7 linked regions of the Homo sapiens genome follow. The protein of the gene in region 3 purifies or fractionates together with the protein of the main gene of each other region. This does not show direct contact. Each region holds a gene or a part of one and is shown on either strand. Other genes may lie near its edges. The genes, in order: TMEM230, ATP13A3, SLC35F5, ABCB10, ATP2B1, KDSR and ATP2C1.

The links.
Region 1: the proteins of SLC35F5 (region 3) and TMEM230 purify together in Homo sapiens (affinity purification with mass spectrometry; one large-scale study listed by BioGRID and IntAct). This does not show direct contact.
Region 2: the proteins of SLC35F5 (region 3) and ATP13A3 purify together in Homo sapiens (affinity purification with mass spectrometry; one large-scale study listed by BioGRID and IntAct). This does not show direct contact.
Region 4: the proteins of SLC35F5 (region 3) and ABCB10 purify together in Homo sapiens (affinity purification with mass spectrometry; one large-scale study listed by BioGRID and IntAct). This does not show direct contact.
Region 5: the proteins of SLC35F5 (region 3) and ATP2B1 purify together in Homo sapiens (affinity purification with mass spectrometry; one large-scale study listed by BioGRID and IntAct). This does not show direct contact.
Region 6: the proteins of SLC35F5 (region 3) and KDSR purify together in Homo sapiens (affinity purification with mass spectrometry; one large-scale study listed by BioGRID and IntAct). This does not show direct contact.
Region 7: the proteins of SLC35F5 (region 3) and ATP2C1 purify together in Homo sapiens (affinity purification with mass spectrometry; one large-scale study listed by BioGRID and IntAct). This does not show direct contact.

What each region holds. Positions count from the first base shown.
Region 1 is NC_000020.11:5,106,577-5,110,076, reverse strand, and holds part of TMEM230 (transmembrane protein 230), read left to right. Parts: intron 1-631; coding exon of another isoform or gene 632-646; coding exon 647-745; intron 746-3,500.
Region 2 is NC_000003.12:194,442,003-194,445,502, forward strand, and holds part of ATP13A3 (polyamine-transporting ATPase 13A3), read right to left. Parts: intron 2,785-3,500; coding exon 2,723-2,784; intron 1-2,722. UniProt on the Homo sapiens protein: ATP-driven pump involved in endocytosis-dependent polyamine transport. Uses ATP as an energy source to transfer polyamine precursor putrescine from the endosomal compartment to the cytosol.
Region 3 is NC_000002.12:113,718,643-113,722,142, forward strand, and holds part of SLC35F5 (solute carrier family 35 member F5), read right to left. Parts: intron 2,727-3,500; exon of another isoform or gene 2,648-2,726; intron 667-2,647; coding exon 512-666; intron 1-511.
Region 4 is NC_000001.11:229,518,395-229,520,707, forward strand, and holds part of ABCB10 (ATP-binding cassette sub-family B member 10, mitochondrial), read right to left. Parts: intron 482-2,313; coding exon 447-481; intron 17-446; coding exon 1-16.
Region 5 is NC_000012.12:89,587,549-89,590,693, forward strand, and holds the end of ATP2B1 (plasma membrane calcium-transporting ATPase 1), read right to left. Parts: 3' UTR 501-3,145; downstream 1-500. UniProt on the Homo sapiens protein: Catalyzes the hydrolysis of ATP coupled with the transport of calcium from the cytoplasm to the extracellular space thereby maintaining intracellular calcium homeostasis.
Region 6 is NC_000018.10:63,357,207-63,360,706, forward strand, and holds part of KDSR (3-ketodihydrosphingosine reductase), read right to left. Parts: intron 2,587-3,500; coding exon 2,530-2,586; intron 1-2,529.
Region 7 is NC_000003.12:130,995,084-130,998,583, reverse strand, and holds part of ATP2C1 (calcium-transporting ATPase type 2C member 1), read right to left. Parts: intron 2,542-3,500; coding exon 2,473-2,541; intron 1,905-2,472; coding exon 1,788-1,904; intron 979-1,787; coding exon 831-978; intron 291-830; coding exon 195-290; intron 1-194. UniProt on the Homo sapiens protein: ATP-driven pump that supplies the Golgi apparatus with Ca(2+) and Mn(2+) ions, both essential cofactors for processing and trafficking of newly synthesized proteins in the secretory pathway.

The sequences.
Region 1 (3,500 bases), on a different chromosome or scaffold from region 3:
TCCAAAAAATACAAACAAACAACAACAACAAAAAAACCCCACAAATTTACGGCAAGAAACTTTACAGATCTTTTGCATTAAAAGGTTGATCTCTATCAAGGGGAAATAGGCAAAATGCTGATGTGAGTGTATTCCATTCTCTGCCCTCTTCTCCCTCCCTGTCAAACAAGAGAATCATTTGAGTATATGCTCCTCTTGCTTTTTCTTAAGAGCGGGAGCAGGGGACAGGCAATGCTGTGGTGTCAGGTGGACCTAGATTTAAGTCCCCATTATTCTACCTAGTCTCTATGTGACTTTGGAAAAATTAAAAGTCAGGGAATCTTGGTGGCAAAATAAACTGGAATGTGATTCTTGGTGAGTGTCTTCACTGTCATTCTACAAGGACAGACCAGACTAGATATTTAATACATAGTGAGAATCTTTTCACTGTGTCAGAGGCATATCTGGTTTTCCATATGCATATGCCTCTGACACAATGAAAATTTAGCAGTGAAGTGTAAATTGCCCATTGCTAGTCTGACATGGCAGCCCAGAACTCCAGTGCACAGCATCTAATAATCCTGAACTCATTGGCTATAATGCACCATTGTCATCTACAGACAATAACGGGTTTTTTGTTTTTAAACTGTAGCTGTGTCAGCGTGTTATGATGCCGTCCCGTACCAACCTGGCTACTGGAATCCCCAGTAGTAAAGTGAAATATTCAAGGCTCTCCAGCACAGACGATGGCTACATTGACCTTCAGGTAAATGCAGAAGAGAACTGACAAGACTGACTGGCTGTGTTTCTGTTAAGTTAGCAGGAAGACCTTCCAGATGGAGATTTTGCTAACTGTCCTTGGGGATTAGAAGGAGCAACAAGAAGAAAACTCAGCTCTGAGACCCTTTCAGCCATAATCGCAGAAGAGGGCCGTGGCAGGGTAGTTTCAAACCAATTCCAGTATTGTCCATTTCTAAGAATTTTTAGTTGTAATGCGAGAGCCTTGTAGTTACAGGTTTTATTTACTTTATTCAGAAACTAATCAGATTGTGTTTTGTTAAGTGGAGTTTTTTGTTGTTGTTTCTTTTTTTAAGGAACTTTAAAATTTTTGTTAGGTGGAATTTTTTTTATCACTGTTTATTTACACTTTAGTCAAAGCCCGTTCACCTTTTAAGGGAGAAACTTATTACTAAAGCCAGCAGATTGTGGGAATCTTCCTTCTTTCCTGATGTCATGAGATCCAATTTATTAAAGGTATTCTTTGTGATAAATAGTAAGTAAAACACAGTATTTATTAAGTTTGTATCCTACCCTAACCATTTATAAACTAGTCAATACTACAGCATCTCCTTTTGCACACTTCCCCTTACAATAGAATGTTCTACGTGGAACTAGGGCCAACGAGGAAGTAGCAGGAAACCATCCTTTATAAATAAATAAATTACTCTTTGGACCCACATTTGAAGGAGAGATAAAAATAGATCTGGAAAGATCTGGGAAGCTTCCAGCCACTTAGGTCAGATACAACGATGAGCCAAACCTTGGAAAATTTGTCTCTGAATCTTAACCTTGAATTGAATTTGTTCATAAGGCAGGTTTACTTGCTATGTGGAACAAACAACTAATCATTTGGAATAAGCTGAAATTGCCTTCTTTTCCTTTTTTTTTTTTTTTTTTGGAGACGGAGTTTTAGTCTTGTTTCCCAGGCTGGAGTGCAGTGGCACAACCTCGGCTCACTGCAACCTCTGCCTCCCAGGTTCAAGCGATTCTCCTGCCTCAGCCTCCCAAGTAGCTGGGATTACGGGCATGCGCCACCACGCCCAGCTAATTTTGTATTTTTAGTAGAGACAGTGTTTCTCCATGTTGGTCAGGCTGGTCTTGAACTCCTGACCTCAGGTGATCATCCTGCCTCGGCCTCGCAAAGTGCTGGGATTATAGGCGTGAGCCACCTTGCCCAGCCTCTTGTTTTGTTTTGTTTTGTTTTTAAGATGTAGTCTTGCTCTGTTGCCCAGGCTGGACTGCAGTGGTGCAATCCTGGCTCACTGCAACCTCCCCCTCCTGGTTCAAGTGATTCTTGTACCTCAGCCTCCCTAGTAGCTGGGGGATTACAGGCATGCACCACCATGCCTGGCCAATTTTCGTATTTTTAGTATAGATGGGGTTTCGCCATGTTGGCCAGGCTGGTCTCGAACTCTTAACCTCCAGTGATTCACCCACTTCGGCCTCCCAAAGCGCTGGAATTACAGGCGTGAGTCACCGCGCCCAGCCTTTTTTTTTTTTTTTTGAGACAGGGTCTTGCTCTTTTGCCCAGGCTTGGGTACAGTGGCACAATCAAGACTCACTGTAACCTTGACCTTCTGGGCTCAAGTAGTCTTTTCACCTCAGCCTCCTGAATAGCTGGGACCACAAGCATGTGCCACCACACCCAGCTAATTTTAAAATTTTTTGTAGAGACAGGATCTCTTAAATCCCCATAAGTTAGTACAGCCATCTATGTGCCAGGCAGTTAATAAATATATATCTAACAAATGAATGACTGTAAAGTCATTTCTGTTTTTGTTTTAAAGAAAAGTTTCTTATGATACAATGAATGATTTATGGAATGAGATTCGAACTAGAGTGAATGACATTCCTCTGAGATTCCTTTGAGTAACTGTGAGAGCAATAACTAGAGCTTCATCTCTTGCCAGTCCCTTTTATTTCTCAGAGCTGCACTGGGTGGTAGGACATACTTAAGACACATAAAGTATCTAGTTTGGTTCTTAATTACCCTCCTGTTTTTGCTGTTGTTGTATTTGAAACAGGCTCTGGCTCTGTCACCCAGGCTGGAGTGCAGTGGTGCAATCTCAGCTCGCTGCCTCTTCACCTCCTGGGCTCAAGCCATCCTCCCAGCTTAGCGTCCCAAGTAGCCGGGACTGCAGGCACATGCCACCACGCCCGGCTAATTTTTGTATTTTTTGTAGAGACGAGGTTTCACCATGTTGCTCAGGCTGGTCTCAAACTCCTGAACTCAAGTGATCCGCCTGCCTCAGCCTCCCACATTGCTGGGATTACAGGTGCGAGCTCTCCTCCCTGTTTTAAAGTGTTTGAGACTGGGCTTGATGGCTTATACCTGTAATCCCAGCACTTTGGGAGGCAGAGGTGGAAGGACTCCCTTGAGCCCAGGAGTTGGAGACCACCCTGGGCAACATAGTGAGACCTCGTCTCTACAGAAAAATTTAAAAATTAGCTGGGCATGGTGACGTATACTTGTAGTCCCAGCTACTTGAGAGGATGAGGCAAGAGAATTGCTTGAGCCCAGGAGTTCGAGGCTGCAATGAGCTGTAATTGCACCACTGCACTCCAGCCTGGGTGATAGAGCAAGACTCCGTCTCTAAAATCATAAAAATTAGGCCGGGCGCGGTGGCTCACGCCTGTAATGCCAGCACTTTGGGAGGCCGAGGCGGGCGGATCACCTGAGGTCAGGAGTTCAAGCCCAGCCAGGTCAACAAGGTGAAACCCTGTCTCTACTAAAAATACCA
Region 2 (3,500 bases), on a different chromosome or scaffold from region 3:
ACCATAGAAAAGGTGTTTTATTACCCCCATTATAGATGAGAAAACTGAAGCAGGGTGGTTAAGTGACTTGTCCCAGGTTACACCGTCCATAAGTAGCAGAGCAAGGATTGAAACACAGGAGGTCAGTTAAAGCCTGTATGACACCGTTGATTACCACTGGGGCTCTTAGCCAAGCAAAGTCAGAACTTCTCCAGAGGGGAGCTCAAAGAAAATTCTGTTAAGAATGAGTCCATAATTTAAAGATGCGCTAGCAAACAATTCACCAAGAGTGTCAACAGACATAACAAAGACAGAATTAGAATCCTATAAATTTGGCCAGGGGCAGTGGCTGATGCCTGTCATCCCGGCATTTTGGGAGGCTGAGGCAGGAGGATCATTTGAGGCCAGGAGTTCAAAACCAGCCTGGGAAATATAGCGAGACACCCATACCAATTCCTATGTTTAAAATAAAAAAATAAAGAATCCCGTAAATTTAAGATAACAGAATGGCAAATCTGAAAGAATGCAAAAAGGGCATTTTAAAATTAGACATACAAAGAGTAAGACACTGTAGATGCGAGAGTAGGGGTGGGAGCAGACTTGGAAAGAACCAAGTAAACCATGTGTTGTCCAACACATGGTTAGGATTCCCAGAAGGAGAGAAAACAAAACACAAGGAAAAGGCCATAATGGAAGTAAAAAAGGCCTGAAAATTTTCCAGAATTTATGAAAAACATGAAAGCATGAAATCAAGAAGCATCATGAATCCTGTACACACAAATAAAAAGATCACAGTGAATCTGCAGAAATTAAGGGTGAAGAAATATTCTTCAAGCAACCAGAGAAAAAAAAGATTACTAAAAAGACTAAGATTTATCAGTACCAATTAACAAAAGGTATTAAGAGAAATGAAATAACAGCTTCATAGTATTGAGAGAACACAAATGTCAAACCTAGAAATCTGTATAGTTACACTACCACCCAAGTGACAGTGGGCTGCTCTGCCTATGAAGGAACCATTCTTTATTCCTTTACTTTCTTAAATTTGCTTTCACTTAAAAAAAAAAAAAAGAGTGACAGTGAAACAAAGCAAATGAATGTAGTTACAGAAGATGGCAATTTACACAAGATGCAATGGTTAAGGCATTAGTACACCTAGGTAAATCTAAGCATGCAGACTGTATAAGACCAAAATAATAATCAGAAAATATTATGCAACAAATACATATAGGAAGGGAGGAGAATAACCAAAAGTATCTTACAGTCCATAGGTTTGTTTTGGGGGGCAGGGGAGTGGTTAAAAGGCAGTATTAACATCCATGAACTTTAAGTATAAATATTGATAATGTAAGAACAAGCAGTATAAGATTGGGATGCATAAAGTGAGAAAATGAGAGAAAAAATGAGAATGTGAAAATGTGTATGTAAATTGGGGGAGCAATGGTAGAAATAATTTCTAATATATCTGAATAAATGTGCACATCATGGCACAGAAAGACTGAAAAGTAAACAAGTGGCAAAACACACACTAGGCAAACATCAGGCAAAAGAAAGCTGGTATAGAGCTATATAATTATAAGACAAAACAGAATTTAAGGCAACATGCATTACTAGAGATAAGAAAGGTCACAACGTGACATACTATTTTCCAAGACACAACAACTCTTGAAATTACATTGGCCAAACAATACTGTCTCTCAAGCTATATACACCAAAATTTAGCAGACTTTTGACAGGGGGAGGGGGGAAGACACAAACAAAACTACAGGAGTAAAACTTCTGAGCTTCAAAAAGCAACAGAAACAAAAGTAAAGAGATGAGCCAGAGACTAATAGGATAATTTTCAATACACAATATTGAAAAAGATTCCTATCCAGAAAATAAAAAAGACCTCTAACAAATAAGATAGACTTCCCAACAGAAAAATGAGGATATAAACACACAATACACAGAAGAATGCTAAATGACCCTCCCTCCAAAATGTGAAAAGATGCTCAATTTTATAAGAAATGAGAAGAATGTAAAAACCACAATGTAATACTCATATCCATCCATCTGGCAAAAATTACAAGTCTGACAATATTAAGTTTGGCAAGAATGTGGAGTAAAAAGATCTTTACCCACTGAGAGAGAAAGCATAAAGCTGAAGCCGTGCCCATGCTACGGCCCAGCCTTTCCATTTACAGGGATCTAGCTTACTGAAACTCAGCCACATGCCTACAAGGACTTATGTGTAAGAACTTTAATTCCAGCACTATTTGCAACAGTGCAGAGAAAAAAGAAGAAAAAACAGAATTGTCCCTTAGTAGAAGAACAGACAAGGTTTAATCATTCAATGGAATAAGACAGAGCAGTTAAAATTAATAAACTAGATCTGCACATATCAACATGGATAAATCTTGAAAACAAAGTTTGGAGAGGGGAAAAAAGCAGCAAAACATATGTACAGTATATCATTCATGGATACTTATTTATAGATTTATACTTAGAAAAAATATAAAATATGCAAAAATAATTTCAGAATGGCAGTAGGAATTGGGGAAGGGATACAGTGGGACTTTGGCAACTTCTATAATATTTTAATATTCTAAAGGAAGCGATCTGAAGCAAATATGGCAACATGTCCACGGTTTAATCCTGGTATAGGTACACAGTTGTCTATTACTTCCTTTATGTTTGAATGTTGCACATGTTAAAATATTAAAAATAAACTAATAAACTATCAAGTCTAACTAATATTTACCGTGCATTTTCCACTCGTTGAATCCCCCAAAGATCTAAACCATCTTCAGTTAGAGTTCCAGTCTAAAAAACAAAAAAGCACACATGCACAAAGTATGGATGATGCCTCAAAAAAAAACCCAAAAATAAAAATAAAAAGCAACCACACAGCATTAGAAACTATGCTACATATAACATAATGGAGTTCTACAGAGTTAAAAAAAGAAACAGGCAAGATCCCTGACAGAGAATGGCTTCCAGGACATATGGTTAAAGTGGGAGAGGGGGTGCAAACAATGATCACAAATCTTCTGCGTAAGGGCAGAGAGGGGTATATATTTACGTGCTTATACTATCAAAAAAAAAATCAATGGAAGGATGCACCAGTTAACCTATCTTATCAATCAATAAAGGATGCCTATAAAGCAAAAAAGGAAGGATTACTGTATAAGGAGGGCCAAGAGGAACAGGTTAAAGTACATCAGGAGGAAGCAACTGGCCAAATCCACAAGGTAAATGACCTGGTTTCTTCAACAAAATAACTGGAGATAAGGGGTAAGTAAAGGCAATTGTTACATGTTAATTGTAAGCAATGTAATCCCTATTTGGATTCTGACTGAAAAATCAACTAGTAAAAATTAGAGATATGAGGAAATCTCAACTGGATATTAGAAAAACTAAAGAATTGCTAATTCTGTTAAATGTGATAGTGATATTTTAAATATCCTCTAGACACATACTAAGGTAGTTATGAGTGAAATAATGTCTGATGCTGTCCCCTTCAAAATGAGCAGATAGAT
Region 3 (3,500 bases):
AAATTAGCTGGGCATGGTGGTGCATGCCTGTAATCCCAGCTACTCAGGAGGCTGAGGCAGGAGAATCACTTGAACCCAGGAGGCAGAGGTTGCAGTGAGCTGAGATCGTGCCATTGCACTCCAGGCTGGGCTACAGAGCAAGACTCTGTCAAGAAAGAGAAAAAAAGAAGAAAGAGAAGAAAGAAAGAGGGAAAGAAAAGGAAAGAAAAAGAGAGAGAAAGAAAAAGAAAGAAAGAAAGAAAGAAAGAAAGAAAGAAAGAAAGAAAGAAAGAAAGAAAGAAAGAAAAAGAAAGGAAGAAAGGAAGGAAGGAAGAAAGAAAGAAAGAAAGGAGAAAGAATCTTATTACCCAAAAGATCTAAACCAATTATTTTATTTTCATCTGCCGTAACATATAAGTTATCATCTTTCAATAATTCCTCACAAAATCTCTAAAAGCTAGGCCAGCATGATGCAATTCTCAGTTATCTAGCAAACACTATTTTTAAAAATGTGTATTGGGACTAAACTTACCTCTGAATTCGATGTTTTCTGCATATAAAAGCAAATATTCTTCTGATTCCCACCATCACAGGATCCCAATTATTATAATGGCATAGGAGAGTTACAATAAAAAATGAAAAAAATACAGGGATAGCTCCTGCAAAAAATAACCAAGAAAACTGCACCTAAAAATAAAAGATAGAGGAAAAAACACACCCACAATTATCATTAAGGCAATTTTCCCCTTCAATGTAAGTTTTCTATTTGTGAAAACTAGCAGGAATAAGAACAATGGGAAGACAAAATTAAACACTGACAATGTATTAAGTGTATTATTATTAAATAAGAATTCAAGACTTCAACTTACTATTCCATGCACCTAAATTACCAACAACAATAGTTCTTGCTTGGAAAATAGGCTAAAGGAAAGCCAAGAAAGCATACTTTCCATTTATAGGCATTGTACACTTAGAGTAGAGATATACAGTAGGAAACTTTGCTCCTGCACACCATGTTGCTCATTTCTTCTTCACTGTTTGCTGCCTAGTCTCAAGTGGGTCTCTCTCCCTCAGTTTCTGAAGTCATCTTCAAAAAATGTATATTTTCGTAAAAAGTTACAGTTGTAGTATGCTGTGTATGCTACAGTCCTTATGACAGTACCAAAAACAAATTAAGTGCAAATTTGACACTCAAAACTCGCTTATCTAGTAATAAATGAAAAAAGCTCAAAATGAAATAATGACCAAATAAAATAAAGAAAAAAATATAGAAATATTTTTACTAAGGAATGTTAGCCAGAGAAGACAAGCAACAAGACAAGCCTCATCAGTGATGTCAACAAGTCTGATCCTCCAATCCATCATTTATCAGAGTTGTCAAGAAAATAAAAAATATCTGTAAGTAGGGTGGAGGTATTAAAATCAAAAAGAAAAAAAAATAAGAAAAACAAATATATAAATAAAAAGAAAATAAAAAATAATGAGATGCCATCCAAAACAAAACTCATTCTTCCCTTTCACTAGTTCACTTTTACCATCTAGACTCAGCTAAAGATCAGAAACGATTGTCAAAGAAGCCTACACTGATCAACCACTGAGACTTAAGTGTAACACACAGGAGGTTTGCTTTAAAAATAATGATGAAAATAGTAACTTCTATCTATAAAATAGGAAAGGAAAACTGTGTTTGCCCTCTTTGAGAATTAAAAAAAAAAAAAAAAGGGCATGGAATCATAGGTAAGACTCCCTCTGGTGGAAAACATATACTATTCCATTTCATAGCACCATTAGTCAGAGTAAACGAGTTTTGTGAGCATAATGTCTTTTATGAGGGAACTCACAATGCATAACACAAGAATAATAACTGACAATTTTTAACATGCATGCCCTATTTCTATGGTATTCATATACAATGACTGAGTCAGCCTAAGAAGACCCCGGAAAGAATAGTCATTAAACTGAAAAGCCTTCATTTAGTTATGAAATTACCAATATATTTTAACATATTCCTGGAATATTTGCCAGAATGACTAATAATCAGGAAAAACCATGCTGCATTTAAATTATCCAAGATCAGAAAAGGTATTAAGAAGTTATAAATAATGCGATTAAAAATGTAGATATAGTTGATAGAATTATTTCATGAATATTCAACTAAAAACCTTATTTCATAACTGAATCAAAGCAAACTTAATAAAGATAGATAAAGCCCTAGAAGACTTTAGAAGGCAAGTTCACTTTCCACAATGTAGCTGTTTATATGTTGTCTCATAATAAAAAACTTCTAATTTGATTTCCAACAAGCTAAGACAAAAGAAACGAAGCCATTTATTACAACAAAGAAAATTACCTATGTAAACAAAATTTTTTTTTCTAATTCCTAAATATATCTGAATATCAAATAGAATATGATCAAGGATGCTTTCTATTATATAAAATGATTATAAATAGATTTAAATAACCAATTTGTTTCAAGCACAATGTTAATAAATGCTAACATTTCAGAAGCTATATATAAATACAGTTAGCTAATTAAACCTAAAAACCCTATAAAAGTAGATTTCTCTTATGTTTGTGTTACAGTTCTGGACACACACTGCTGCTTTTTCCAGATGGAATCTCCCTAACCTCAATCCTGACACCAACACACAGCCTGCTCCTTTAACTGACTGCCCAGTTCTAGATATGAAGACAATCAAGAACACCAAATCTTTTCTTGATTGTCTTCATATCCAGAACTGGGCAATCAGTTAAAGTTTGGTTATGTTTTTATAATTAATTGCATGTGCATACATTTCCCCGTTTTGTCTTTACCCTAAAATACTTTATTAAACAAATTATAACCATTATTGTTTGTAATGATAATTATGAAATGACTAATCATTTAATACAATTAGGTCCCCTGTGACTATTTTCTTAAAAATTCCTGAACATTAAGCTGCAATTTTTTTCAATCTACGAAAGCTTTTGTTTTTAAAATATCAGTACAATAAAGATGATTTACACAGTAGTCTACCAAAATCCTCTAACAAGTAGCACCTTCCCAGTTTCACAACCAGTTTGGTTCATATTCAGGATTATGACCTGAAGATGAAGAAGGGCCTAGATATTACTTAAATCTATAAAAGAATGATGTGTAATAATGTGCAATGTTAGTGTTATATGGAATATCCACATTCTTTGAAAATGCAAGTTATGTAAGATAATTAATTCTCAATTAAGGAAAGAATCTCAGTTCTTTAACCATGACAAATAAGAATTTACTGACCATAAAACAAAGTTAAATATCAGTAAAGAATTATTTTATAAATAAAGAGGATATAGAGCACTAAGCATATTTTGCTTTTATCTTTTTTTTTTTTTTTTTTTTTGAGATGGAGTCTTGTTCTGTTGCCCAGGCTGGAGCGCAGTGGCATGATCTTGGCTCACTGCAACCTCCGCCTCCCGGGTTCAAGTGATTCTCCTGCCTCAGCCTCCCAAGTAGCTGGGATTACAGGTGCACGCCATCACACCCAGCTAAT
Region 4 (2,313 bases), on a different chromosome or scaffold from region 3:
TTCGGCATCCAGCGCACTGACACAGGAGCACACACACAAGAAAGCAAAGACGTCAGTGACACCCATGTGCTTCCTGATACACACAGCAGCCCTTCCTGAGCAATGAATTTTTACCATGATCAAAATTTCAACTGTTTAGGACTTTCTGATCTCCATAAAACTATACTGTGATGTAAGGAGAAAAGCATTCTGCACAGTTACAGCTTACAGAGTGATTAGGATTGATGGCAACCATGTCTGAAGTGGACCTAGAACTCTCAACTAGGACTCAGTCTGCCCACTGGTTTTCAACTGTCATTATTAATTCAGCTTCCCTCACTTTAGAGTAAAGGGGGGAAAAAGGATTTTCAGTTGTATCACTTTGAGGTACAGAATTAAAAGTGTTTTGGTGAAGGAAGAATTTGGTTTAATACACACAATGGCATATATTATTAAGATATCCTCACCTGGTTGCTTCATCTAGGAGAAGAATTTTGGGATTCTGAAGAAGGAAAAAAAAGGAAAAGATAAAATAATTTTATTGGAAAAATACAAACTCTCAGCAATAAAAAAGGAATAAAATTCTGACACATGCTACAATGTGGATGAGCCTTGGAAACTTATGCTAAGTGAAAGAAGCCAGACACAAAGAATCACATACTGTATGAGTTCACTTATATGAAATGTCCACAACAGGCACTTCTACAGATGGTGGATATCTGGGGCTGGGTTCAATGCAGGAAATAAGGAAGGGGAGTTGCATGGCTGCTAAAGAGTAGAGGGTCCCTGGGGGGGTGATGAAAATGTTTTCTAAAATTGTGATGATGGATGCACAACACAGAATACACTAAAAACCAATGAATTTATTTTTTAAATGGGCAAATTATGTAGTATGTGAATTATATCTCAAAGCTGTTACAAAAAAACCCCACAAATTACTAAGTGTCTGGGATAAGTACATAAATGAAAGAATTAGAGACTATTTTAAATGATCATCAGAGTAATCACTAGACCAGGTATCGTTCATAGCACAGTTTTATCCTGCCATCAGAGTAATCACTAGACCGGGTATCCTTTATAGCACAGTTTTATCCTGCTGGTCAGTGAGATGAGAATCTAAAATGAGTAAGATGGCCGGACGTGGTGGCTCACGACTGTAATCCCGGCAATTTGGGAGGCCGAGGCAGGTGGATCACCTGAGGTCAGGAGTTTGGGACTAGCCTGGCCAACATGGCAAAACCCCGTCTCTACTAAAAATACAAAAAAATTAGCTGGCCTGGTGGCACATGCCTGTAATCCCAGCTACTCTGGATGCTGAGGCAGGAGAATCGCTTGAACTCGGGAAGTGGAGGCTGCAGTGAGCCAAGCTCACACCACTGCACTCCAGCCTGGGCGACAGAGTGAGACTCTGTCTCAGAAAATAAATAAATAAAGTAAGTAAGTAAGTAAATAAATAAATAAAATGAGTAAGGCTGAGTACGGTGGCTCACACCTGTAATCCCAACACTCTGGCAGGCTGAGGGGGGAGGACTGCTTGAGCCCAGGAGTTCAAGACCAGCCTGGGCAAAATAGCAAGACCCCATCTCTACCAAAAAAATTTTTTTTTAAATTAGCTGGGTTTGGTATGGTATGCACCTATAGTCCTAGCTCCCTGGGAGGCTGAGACAGGTAGATTACTGAAGCCCAGGAGGTCAAGGCTACAAGTGAGCCATGATCACACCACTGCACTCCAGCCTGGGTGACAGAATGAGACCGTCACAAATTTAAAAATAAAATTAAATTAAAATTAAAAAGATATGTCTATAACTTTCAAGGTCCTGCTTATAGTTAATTTAGAAATAATAAACTAACTTTGGGAGGCCAAGGTGGGTGGATCACTTGAGGTCAGGAGTTCAAGACCAGCCTGGCGAACATGGTGAAACCCCACCTCTACTAAAAATACAAAAATCAGCCGGGTGTGGTGGCGTGCATCTGTGATCCCAGCTACTTGGGAGGCTGAGGCATGAGTATCACTTGCAACCTGGGAGGCAGAGTTTGCAATGCGCTGAGATCGACCACTGCACTCCAGCCTGGGTGATACAGCGAGACTCTGTCTCAAAAAAAAGAAAAAAAGAAAAAAGAAAAGCTAACACATGAGACCAAAAAAAAAAAAAAGAGACTAATCTGATGTAGATAAAACATTACAAGTCCAGCTTTGCAAATGAAAACACACACCCTCACAAAAAGGTAGCTACTATTCTTTATATATTATTCACAATAGCCCCAAACTGGAAATGACCCAAGCGTTTATCAGCTGGTGAACAGATCAACAAATAGGGATCCATCCATACTACT
Region 5 (3,145 bases), on a different chromosome or scaffold from region 3:
AATAATTTACTAATGATTTATACTAACTGAAAAATATGGTATTCATCATCATTTAAAGTTTACTCAGTATTTCAACAAAGTTGCTAGTTTATATTAATAACTTATTATAAAAAACAACTATGGATAATTTTATTAATTTTTACCATAGAGTTCAGATAACTGGTATTGACAAGTATGGATAATGAAATAAAAATAAGCTCTTACAGCTAATGTGAAAAACTAATCTGTACTAAAACCAGCAGATTACATTCCCATAGACTGCAGAAATGATCTATTGTGCTATAAGGGTTGAGGACAGTGGGTTGGAGAGTAGGGACAATGTACCCACTCTCATTTTAGAGGCAAGATCATGCATATTATTAGAAGAGTGATTCACTGTAACACAACCATAACATTTCAAGTACATTATAGAATTTTCAATTAGATTTCTAAAATTTCAAGTAGAAAAAATTCCAAAATATTTTCAAATCAATATCAATATCCAAAAAGTTCAGTCCCCATTCAGAAACAGATAAACAGTATATTTATTAAATGAGTTAAGACAAATAAACTTTACAAATAGACAAATAATAAAAGGCTCAGTGGCTAAAATAGATGGTAAGCATCATTGAAAGAAATCAACACCATCACGGTATCTCAGTTGGCTTACACGTGTAAAAAGAAATTTTCAAAGAGCAATTTCACAGAAATGAAGCCAGTTTTTTTCTTATAAACAAATCACCAATTCTTGGTTCAAAACTGACATCTGTTATGAAAATTACCATATCACATATTTGTAAGATGACAAGGAGTAACTCATCTTCAAAGTGCAAGTAAGTCTATTTACAACCACAAAAAAGGCAATGATGAGGAGAAAAGGATTTTTAAAAAATATACAAAGATTAAAAACATTTGGGATGCAAAATTAAACAATTTTTTGGTTAGAGGATAAAAGAGAAAAAGTGATTGAATTACAGATTTCAGCTATACATACTATATAATGGGATCCAAGATCTTTAACAGCTTGCTTGCATTTTTTTCTACCTACATAATGCTCTGGAAATTTCTGGTAGAAATTACAGTGTCTCAAAGAGAGAAATACACACTAAGCATGTCTTGCTACTACTTCATAGATGTCATAAGACCCGTTTATGGATTAGAGTTGGTGTAGAAAGCCATTGCCTTGAGTTGAAAAATGAATACTGTAAAAGCTCAATACAAATCCTCCAAAGCACATGCACTTCTAAATCTTTTGGTAATTACATTCATATTTAAGCATAACCAAAATAAAAAAGAAAACTGAAAACATTTCCCTTTTCTCTATTCCCTATGCCTTGTGGGCTCTCCAGTTGATAGGGTCAATTTTTAGAGTTGAAAGGGTTCTTCAAGATAGTCCACCACCCTTATTTAGGGTAAATGATTTTCCCAAGATCATGCAGCACATTAATGGCAAAACCAAGACTAGAAACCAGGTCTTGACTCCTAGTCTAATATGCTTTCCAGCATATCATGCTACCTCTTTTTTACAGTATGATTCACTATAAATACCTGATGAATAAATGTACAATTACAAATGCTGACAGAGCCAATGTGTTTCTAAGACCTGCAGAGGATTACTGCAAAGATTTGATGGTGAGAAAAAGATTTCCCCCACCCACCAAAAATATCAAGCACCATCAACTAAATGTTTCTTTGCTTGGTCAGCACTCTCAGTTATAGTAGCAGTCCTCGTAAACTTTATGTCAGCCTGAGGATTGTGTATCTGGTGAAATCTGGGCCCTAACACATGCCAGTTTCTAAAGGGTAAAGACAGAGGCAAAAAAGAGAAGAAGGTAGATGAAGGAAAGAAAAAGAGAGCTAAAGAATCCAATTGGCTTAGAGGTGGGCATTCTAGCATATGGTTAATTATTGCATCTAAATATATCATTTTAGAACCTTTTCATGTAATCTCATTTTACCTAATCTGTTATTTGGCCACTTAAGAATTAAAATAAATGTATCAAAGACAATGGTGGTCATTGTTGTTATGTTTTTTACCTGTGAGACTATTTTAGACAAACTAAATTCAATGAAGAGTATGTCAAATGGTAAAATTGTGTTAATTTTCTTAATCTGATTCTATTAGATTACCAGCAAGGAATTAAAGCGGTACTTCATGGGGCTGTTACCATCTTGAAATGTATTCCAATTGTGGTCAAAGAGAACAGACTGATGCACTGTATATGCAGAACTGAGTAAAGAAGCTGAAATGTCTTTTAAAAAAACATTGCCATGAATTTATTTAATAAAAGGGCATATTTATTTATGTTTACAAACAAGTTTCAAAAACAAAAGGAAAACATGTATGCTTCTACTTATTAACCTTTTTCAAAATGCCAACAGCCCTCATGCTGTGTGAAGGTCTCTAAAGATTAGAAAAATCAATACAGTTCACTCACAGTTCACCAAGACATCACTAAACTAACATGTTTAGACAAAAACAAAAAAGACTAAGGTTCTCTTGTAGTTTGATAGTCTGATTTAATTTGATTTGCCTGAAATAACAAAAGCATTTCAAGCATCTTTCATTATGTAGTTGATGTCCTGCATTAAACAATCTACTAAATTCTGAACAAAAGGTTATTAGCAAGTTTTCAAAAATTTTAAAAATTAAACAGTTGCTTCAAAACCATTAAGTAGTAAATGTATTTAAGAAACTAATTAGGACAGATGTCATAACTTCATTAGAACACCACTGCTCATGTTTTTTTGTTTTGTTTTGTTTTTTTCGTTTTTTTAAACAAAGCATTAGTGTTATCTATTTGGCTATTAGTATTAGCAATTTATCTACAATATTTAACAAGGTAAATTGTAGGCAAAAATTTAGTACAGTTTCAATAGAAACACCCCTTTTTTTTTTTTTCCTGAAAATACAGCAGTATTTGAAGGACTAATTTTTCTCTGCATCAGTTATAAGGAAGCTTCCCATCTATGAACAGGAACAAAAAAAGTATCTACAAACCTTGTAAACAGATCTGTATCATTTATAAACATAAATAATCCAAATTATTAACAGCCAACAGCAGAAATTAAACTATCAATTCAACGATCCAGGGCTCTTTGTCTTGCCCAGTTTTACTCCTCCCTCTCTCTCCCATCCAGGACTGAGATAAACTAAAGCTCTGCT
Region 6 (3,500 bases), on a different chromosome or scaffold from region 3:
GTGGCGCAACAGAAACCGCATTCCTACTTATGGGAGCTTAACCACTTTGGTGAGGTTGAAGAACTGCATACACTACAGCTCTGCAATTCCATTTCTGGGTATGTACCATTCTTGCACACGTGCACAAAGAGAATACTGAAAGCTTTTCTAATAGTAAAAAACAAAACAAACTAACAAAAATACTGGGAACAAACTAAATATCCACCAATTGCTGAACTGATGAACAAAATGTAGTCTATACATACAATAGAATACTACGCAGCAGTAAAAAAAAAAAAATTTACTCCAACTTTTTGCAGCAACATAAATGAATTTTTAAAATTATATATATATATACACATATATATACATACATACATACATACATATATATATATATATATATATATTTTTTTTTGAGATGGAGTCTCCCTCTGTTACCCAGGCTGGAGTACAGCGGTGCAATCTCTGCTCACCTCAAGCTTTGCCTCCCAGATCCAAGTGATTCTCCTGCCTCAGCCTCCCTCCTGAGTAGCTGGGGTTACAGGTGCAGCTAACTTTTTATATTTTTAGTAGAGACAGGGTTTCACCACTTTGTCCAGGCTGATCTCAAACACCTACCTTCAACTGATTTGCCCGTCTCGGCCTCTCAAAATGTTGGGATTACAGGCATGAGCCACCGCACCTGGCCTAAAGAATAATATTGAGTGGTCTGGGAATGGTGGCTCACACCTGTAATCCCAGCACTTTCAGAGGCTGAGGCGGGCGGATCACGAGGTTGGGAGTTCGAGACCAGCCTGATCAACATGGTGAAACCCTGTCTCTACTAAAAATACAAAAATTAGCTGGGCGTAGTGACGCGCGCCTGTAATCCCAACTACCCAGGAAGCTGAGGCTTGAACCCAGGAGGCAGAGGTTGCAGTGAGCTGAGATTGTGCCACTGCACTCCAGACTGGGCAACAGAGCGAGACTCCATCTCAAAAATAAATAAATAAATAAGAAATAAATAATAATAATATTGAGTGAAGAAATCAAGTTGCATAAGAAGCATAAAGAAGGAAGTTATACAAATCTATAGAGAAAGAAAGTAGATGAGTGACTGCCTAGCTGAGAAGAGGCTGGGAGGAAATGGCAAGTGACTGCTAATACACATGGAGATTCTTCACGGGGTGAGGAAAACATTCTAAAATTGATTTTGATGACAGTTGCACAACTCTATGAATACATTAAAAATCATTGAATTATATATTTTAAATGGGTCAACTGTATGGTATATAAATTATATCTCATAAAGCTGTTAAAAAATAAGAATGATATAATAAAAGAAGTAGAACTAAGTATATTGGCCAGGCATGGTGGCTCACGCCCATAATCACAGGACTTTGGGAGGCCAAGGCAGGCAGATCACCTGAGGTCAGGAGTTTGAGACTAGCCTGACAAACATGGTAAAACCCTGTCTCTACTAAAAATACAAAAAAAATTAGCCGGGTGTGGTGGCACACACCTGTAATCCCAGCTACTCAGGAGGCTGAGGCAGGAGAATCGCTTGAACCCGAGAGGTGGAGGTTGCAGTGAGCCAAGATGGCACCACTGCACTCCAGCCTGGGTGACAGAGAGAGACTCTGTCTCAAAAAAAAAAAAAAAAAAGAACTAAACAATATATTATTATTTAGAGTTATGTGCATATATGGTAAAATTAAAAAGAAAAAGAGGCAGGGCACAGTGGCTCACTCCTATAATACCAGCACTTTGGGAGGCAGAGGTAGGCGGACTGCTTGAGCCCAGGAGTTGAAGACCAGCCTGGGCAACATGGCGAAACCCCATCTCTACCAAAAATACAAAAATTAGCCATGCATGATGGCACGTGTCTATAATCTCAGCTACTAGGGAGGCTGAGGTGGGAGGACTGCTTGAGCCCAGGAGGTCGAGGCTGCAGTGAGCTGAGATCGCACCCCTGCACTCCAGCCTGGATGACAGATTGAGACACTGCCTCAAAAAAAAAAAAAAAAAAAAAAAGGAAAGAAAAAAGAAAAGAAAAAGAAAGGATTAACACCAAAAATCGGGTTGGCATTTGCCCCTCTAGGAACAAGAAAAGAGGGACAAGGCTGCTGTGGGGGCTTCAGAGACCCTGATCATTTCTACTTCTTAGGCTGGGTGATGGGTGTGTGATTATTAATTTGCTATTATGTTTTATACTGAAATATAAATAGCATTTTATTCATCAAAAATTCCATAACCAAATAAATTTTAAATATTCCTTTCCTCTTAAGCATTTGTATAAAGTTCATTAAAAAAAAAATTAAAATGAAATTATTTGCCAGTAAAACATTCTGTTATTTGACCATTTGTAGATATGAATGTGTGTGGGAGTCTATTCATTTTGCGTGTGTGTGATATTCTGAGTTACTAGACCATTCAAACAATTCCACCTTTTAAAAAACAGTACATATATGCTTTCAATTAACTATTCACAGGTGAAGTAACTCTGTTTTTCCTTTATACAGCTGTGCTGAGTTATACAGAAAATGCATTCTGAAGACAGAGATTTACCTGTTTGTCATTAATAGAGTGCATTTCAATTTCTTTCTTTGCCTGCAGCAGCTTATCCTGAAAGCAATACAGAATAATTAGTCGTGATGACCGTCTATATGCATGTCCGTTTATTGCAAAGGAGAGAAAAAAAGCAATTATTTCTATATGTATGTATTAAATTCCAGAAAACACACAAAACAGTATCTACATTGCATAGACAGACTGGGCCACAGCCTATGAAAGAAAGAAGTTGTGAAGTATGTTAAGCTATGAATAAGTGATAAAAGTTTGAAAATTAATTAGAGAAAGATAGTAGAAAACAGATAAACCTCAAAATCCCAGTTAACAGTACTAATTGCTGAGGCTGACTCTACAGTTCTAATAAATGTCTTATTATTTAGTTGTGATATAAGACAAGAACAACTCTATTAATATGTACTGCTCCCCAAAGTTGAGGGTATGTGTGACTCCCTGTCAATACTGCTTTTTGTCCAATATTTTCTTCTTCTACTATAAACCCAAACATAGTAAGAATCACTTTCTGGATAGACTGGGTAAACTAGGCCTGGCTACTATAAAATACTCTTAAGCAAGGTTACCTGTGTAATTATGTAATTCTTCCAAGGTCCTAATTTTGTTTGTTTTACTTAGTCTCAAGAAAACAGATATCAGATTATCTTAATTTGCTGTAAAAAGTAACTTAAATAATATCATGCAATAGAGAGGAACCAAAGGAGAGGCGAATTCTTCCAAAAGGCATGCAGAGTTTCTAAACCTGAATATGTCTATAATGAAATAATATTGTCCTATGACTAAAGATACATACAGCTTGACTTTGCAAAGACTGGAATTAAAAATTACATTAGAAAAGAAAGAATTTCTCAGCCAGGCATGGTGGCTCACCCCTGTAATCCCAGCACTTTGGGAGGCCAAGGTGAGTGGATCACCCAAGCTCAGGAGTTTGAGACCAGCCTGGGCAACATGGTGAA
Region 7 (3,500 bases), on a different chromosome or scaffold from region 3:
AGCTTACCTCCCACAAATGCCCCATCCTCATTGTGACCAATGGCACATGTTTATAAGAAGGCTGTGTCTGGGGCTGCAATCTGTGGCTACAAAATTAAGCAAAGCTAAAAACCCATAATCTTTGCCTACTTATTAGAAAGCACTCTACTCAAGTGAGTCAATCAAGTCAATCAACTAAGTTCACCTAAACATACCTGGGATCTGGAACTTAGTGCATTGAACATGTCAAAAAACACAAAGCATGTGAAGGTCATTGTTGTGTCTCGAGGTGTAATCACATTGTCTCGTAGCTGTCAAGAGGCAATAACAAAATTACTTTTCAGTGGCTGAATTTAATGGATAAATCGCTGCTTTTTAAAAAATATAAACATTTTCTTTCCATTAGGAAGAAATAACTTTAGCCTAACACATGAAACATAAAAGCTACCTAAATTTCCTATAAATCACCTAGTGAATAGCTGTAATCTACATAATAAAAAGTAAAAAAAAAACTTCTCATGAACTATGTATTAGATATTAAAATACTGTTATTATTTAAAAATAATAAAGTGGCTCTATGATTTTAAGACTCAGATTTTCCAACTTCTCTCTAAATTTTCATGTATTTTTATTGTAACTGATACTTCTCTGCAGATTTATTCTAATACATGAATCAATAATTTTATTTATCCATAAAGATGGAAATCAAACTCTTTTAAAATGTTCTTATATTTTTCACTAAAAGAGCTCCCTTAACTTCCCAGCCTTCTGGGTAACCCATCAAAATAACTAAGAATCCTATCAGATATACAGAATTCATGTTAATATAGCAGCTTGGCCAGTGAATATACCTCACGCCAGAAGACAAACAAAGTCCCACAAACAATGATTATTGATGAAACAAGTATTTTAAGTATCAAGTTTTTAGTCAAAATGCTGTCTTTCCAGTTGCGAGGAGGTTTACGAATGACATCTTTATCCACTGGTTCTACTCCAAGGCTTAAAAACAAACAGAAAAATAAATTACTTTCAAGTTTTAAGGTCTGGATTTGTTACTTTCACAACCTCACTAACCTCAATTATTCGGCAAACTAAATGCTTTCTTATAGAAACAAAATGTTGCATCATAAAACGCTGGCTGATTACGCAAAAATAACCACTGATTTTGTCACTTTTTCTCTCCTCTTTATTTGTTTGGCACAATTTGATAGGGGATAGATAATCAACTTTCAAAAAACCATCCAATTCATTTACATGTAAGTTTACCTATTTCAAATACGGTGTGAAATACATGACCTACCGACTGAATTTTGAAATATCTTTCATATAAAGAGGTTTTAACTGGGATGATTTGCTGGAGTGGCCAAATGACATCTATCACTCAACTACCCCATTATTATTAAATTTTTTAAAAAAGTTATGACACTCAGGTCCTCTAATACTTTCCCAAAGTCTCTAAAACTGACAGTAGAACCTAGATAATAAAACTGAACCCAGAAATTTCTCCATTATACCCATTTCTTAGAAATAAAAGGCTTACTTACTTCCTGAGGACAGGGATAGCACCTATTCCTGATCTATTCTCAACCTTAGGCTAGGCATCTAACAGTGGAAAGGCTCAGATCTACACTGCATGCACACTCAAAAAGAATTAATAAAATACACACATCACACAATTTATAACATAAATGTTAAAACATTTGCTGCAAAGTTTTCCAACACTGTCCATAAATCAAGTTTTAAAACTTAATTATCAGGGTAGTACACATTCCTTGTCTTTCCAGCTCATGCAATTAAAAAACTCGTACCTCTGAGCTGGGGGTCCATCCATAATAATATTGATCCACAAAATCTGCATGGCATTGAGAGGATTAGGAAAGTTCATTAATGTAGCCAATGAGATTAAAGTTAATGCTGCTATACTCCTGTTGAAAAAGAGAGTCATTTAAAAATATCAGTAGAGTAAATCTGTTGATTCTATGATACCACTTTTTTAGCATTTAAAAATCTCTTACTACTATGCTTTTAAAGGAAGACTGTTTCAAGTAAACTATTCTTCAGTCACGTGGACATTTTAAAGCTAAGAGTATTTTAACAAAGGATTTTCAAGATGTTTAGACAACAGGAACAAATAAAGAATTTTTACATCTGCATGATAGTTTCAACAATATTTTGGTAACTGTTCTTTGACTACACAATACCCCTTCTACTTTTGGAAAAAGATACCAAGAGGAAACAATGAGATGTGAGCTATTAAATAAATCACAAAGATTTATACATTTTGATGATACAGACATCTAACTGTTACATTTACAACCTATTTATCATGCCATTTAAAATTTCAGAATACAATAAATTTTCTTTTTGGAAAACTGACATATGAACAATGCTCACAAATATAAGGCAGAGAAGTTTCTAGGCATTCTGCTTAAGTTCTACTTTTCATATAATTTATCCAGAAGACCCATGGTGACAAATTTCTTGCAAACTTACGTGCTCAGCTGGAATCTAACGAAATTTTTAATGTTATTATAAATCCCTTTACCCTCTTCGATTGCAGACCTGAAATTTAAAAAATAAAGATGAAGTGAGAAAATATTATCATACAAAAATGTATCTATACTAAAACACTGTAGAGCTAATTTTGAAAATAAATTTCCAACCGGGCACTGTGGCTCATGCCTGTAATCCCAGCACACTGGGAGGCCGAAACTGGCAGATCACCTGGGGTCACGAGTTCGGACCAGCCTGGCCACCATGGTGCAGCGAAACTCCGTCTCTACTAAAAATACAAAAATTAGCCGGGTGTGGTGGCGCATGCCTGTAATCCCAGCTACTCGGGAGGCTGAGGCAGGAGAATCGCTTAAACCCGGGAGGCGGAGGTTGCAGTGAGCCAAGATCACACCACTGCACTCCAGCCTTGGCAACAAAGTGAGACTGACTCAAACAAACAAACAAATAAATAAAATAAAATTCCAACTAATACAACACATGTATCAATATGGAAACATTTATTTTAGCAAAGAATTAAAGTCAAGCCTAAGCTCTACCTGAACTAATTTGTCACAATATTAAAATTCTTATTCTGAAGAAGATACTTCAACATTAAAATCATGCATTGTCTCTTCACACAAGAGAAAATACTTCACATTCATAATACATAAAATGATTATCTTTTTTTTTTTTTTTTGAGACAGGGTCTTGCCCTGCTTCCCAGGCTGGAGCGCAGTGGCACAACCTTGACTTACCTGCAGCCTCGACCTTCTTGGCTCAAGCAATCCTCCAGCTCAGCCTCTAGAGTAGCTGAGACCACAGGCTCACATCACCACTCCCAGCTATTTTTTTTGTATTGTTTGGAGAGATGGGTTTTGACATGTTGCCTAGGCTGGTTTCGAACTCCTGGGCTCAAGTGATCCATCCACCTCAGCCTCCCAAAGTGCTGGCATTACAGGCATGAGGTACCCTGCCCAGCCATGATTATCTTCTTCACCTTCCTCTAAGCTCATTTTTCTTAGTGGTAC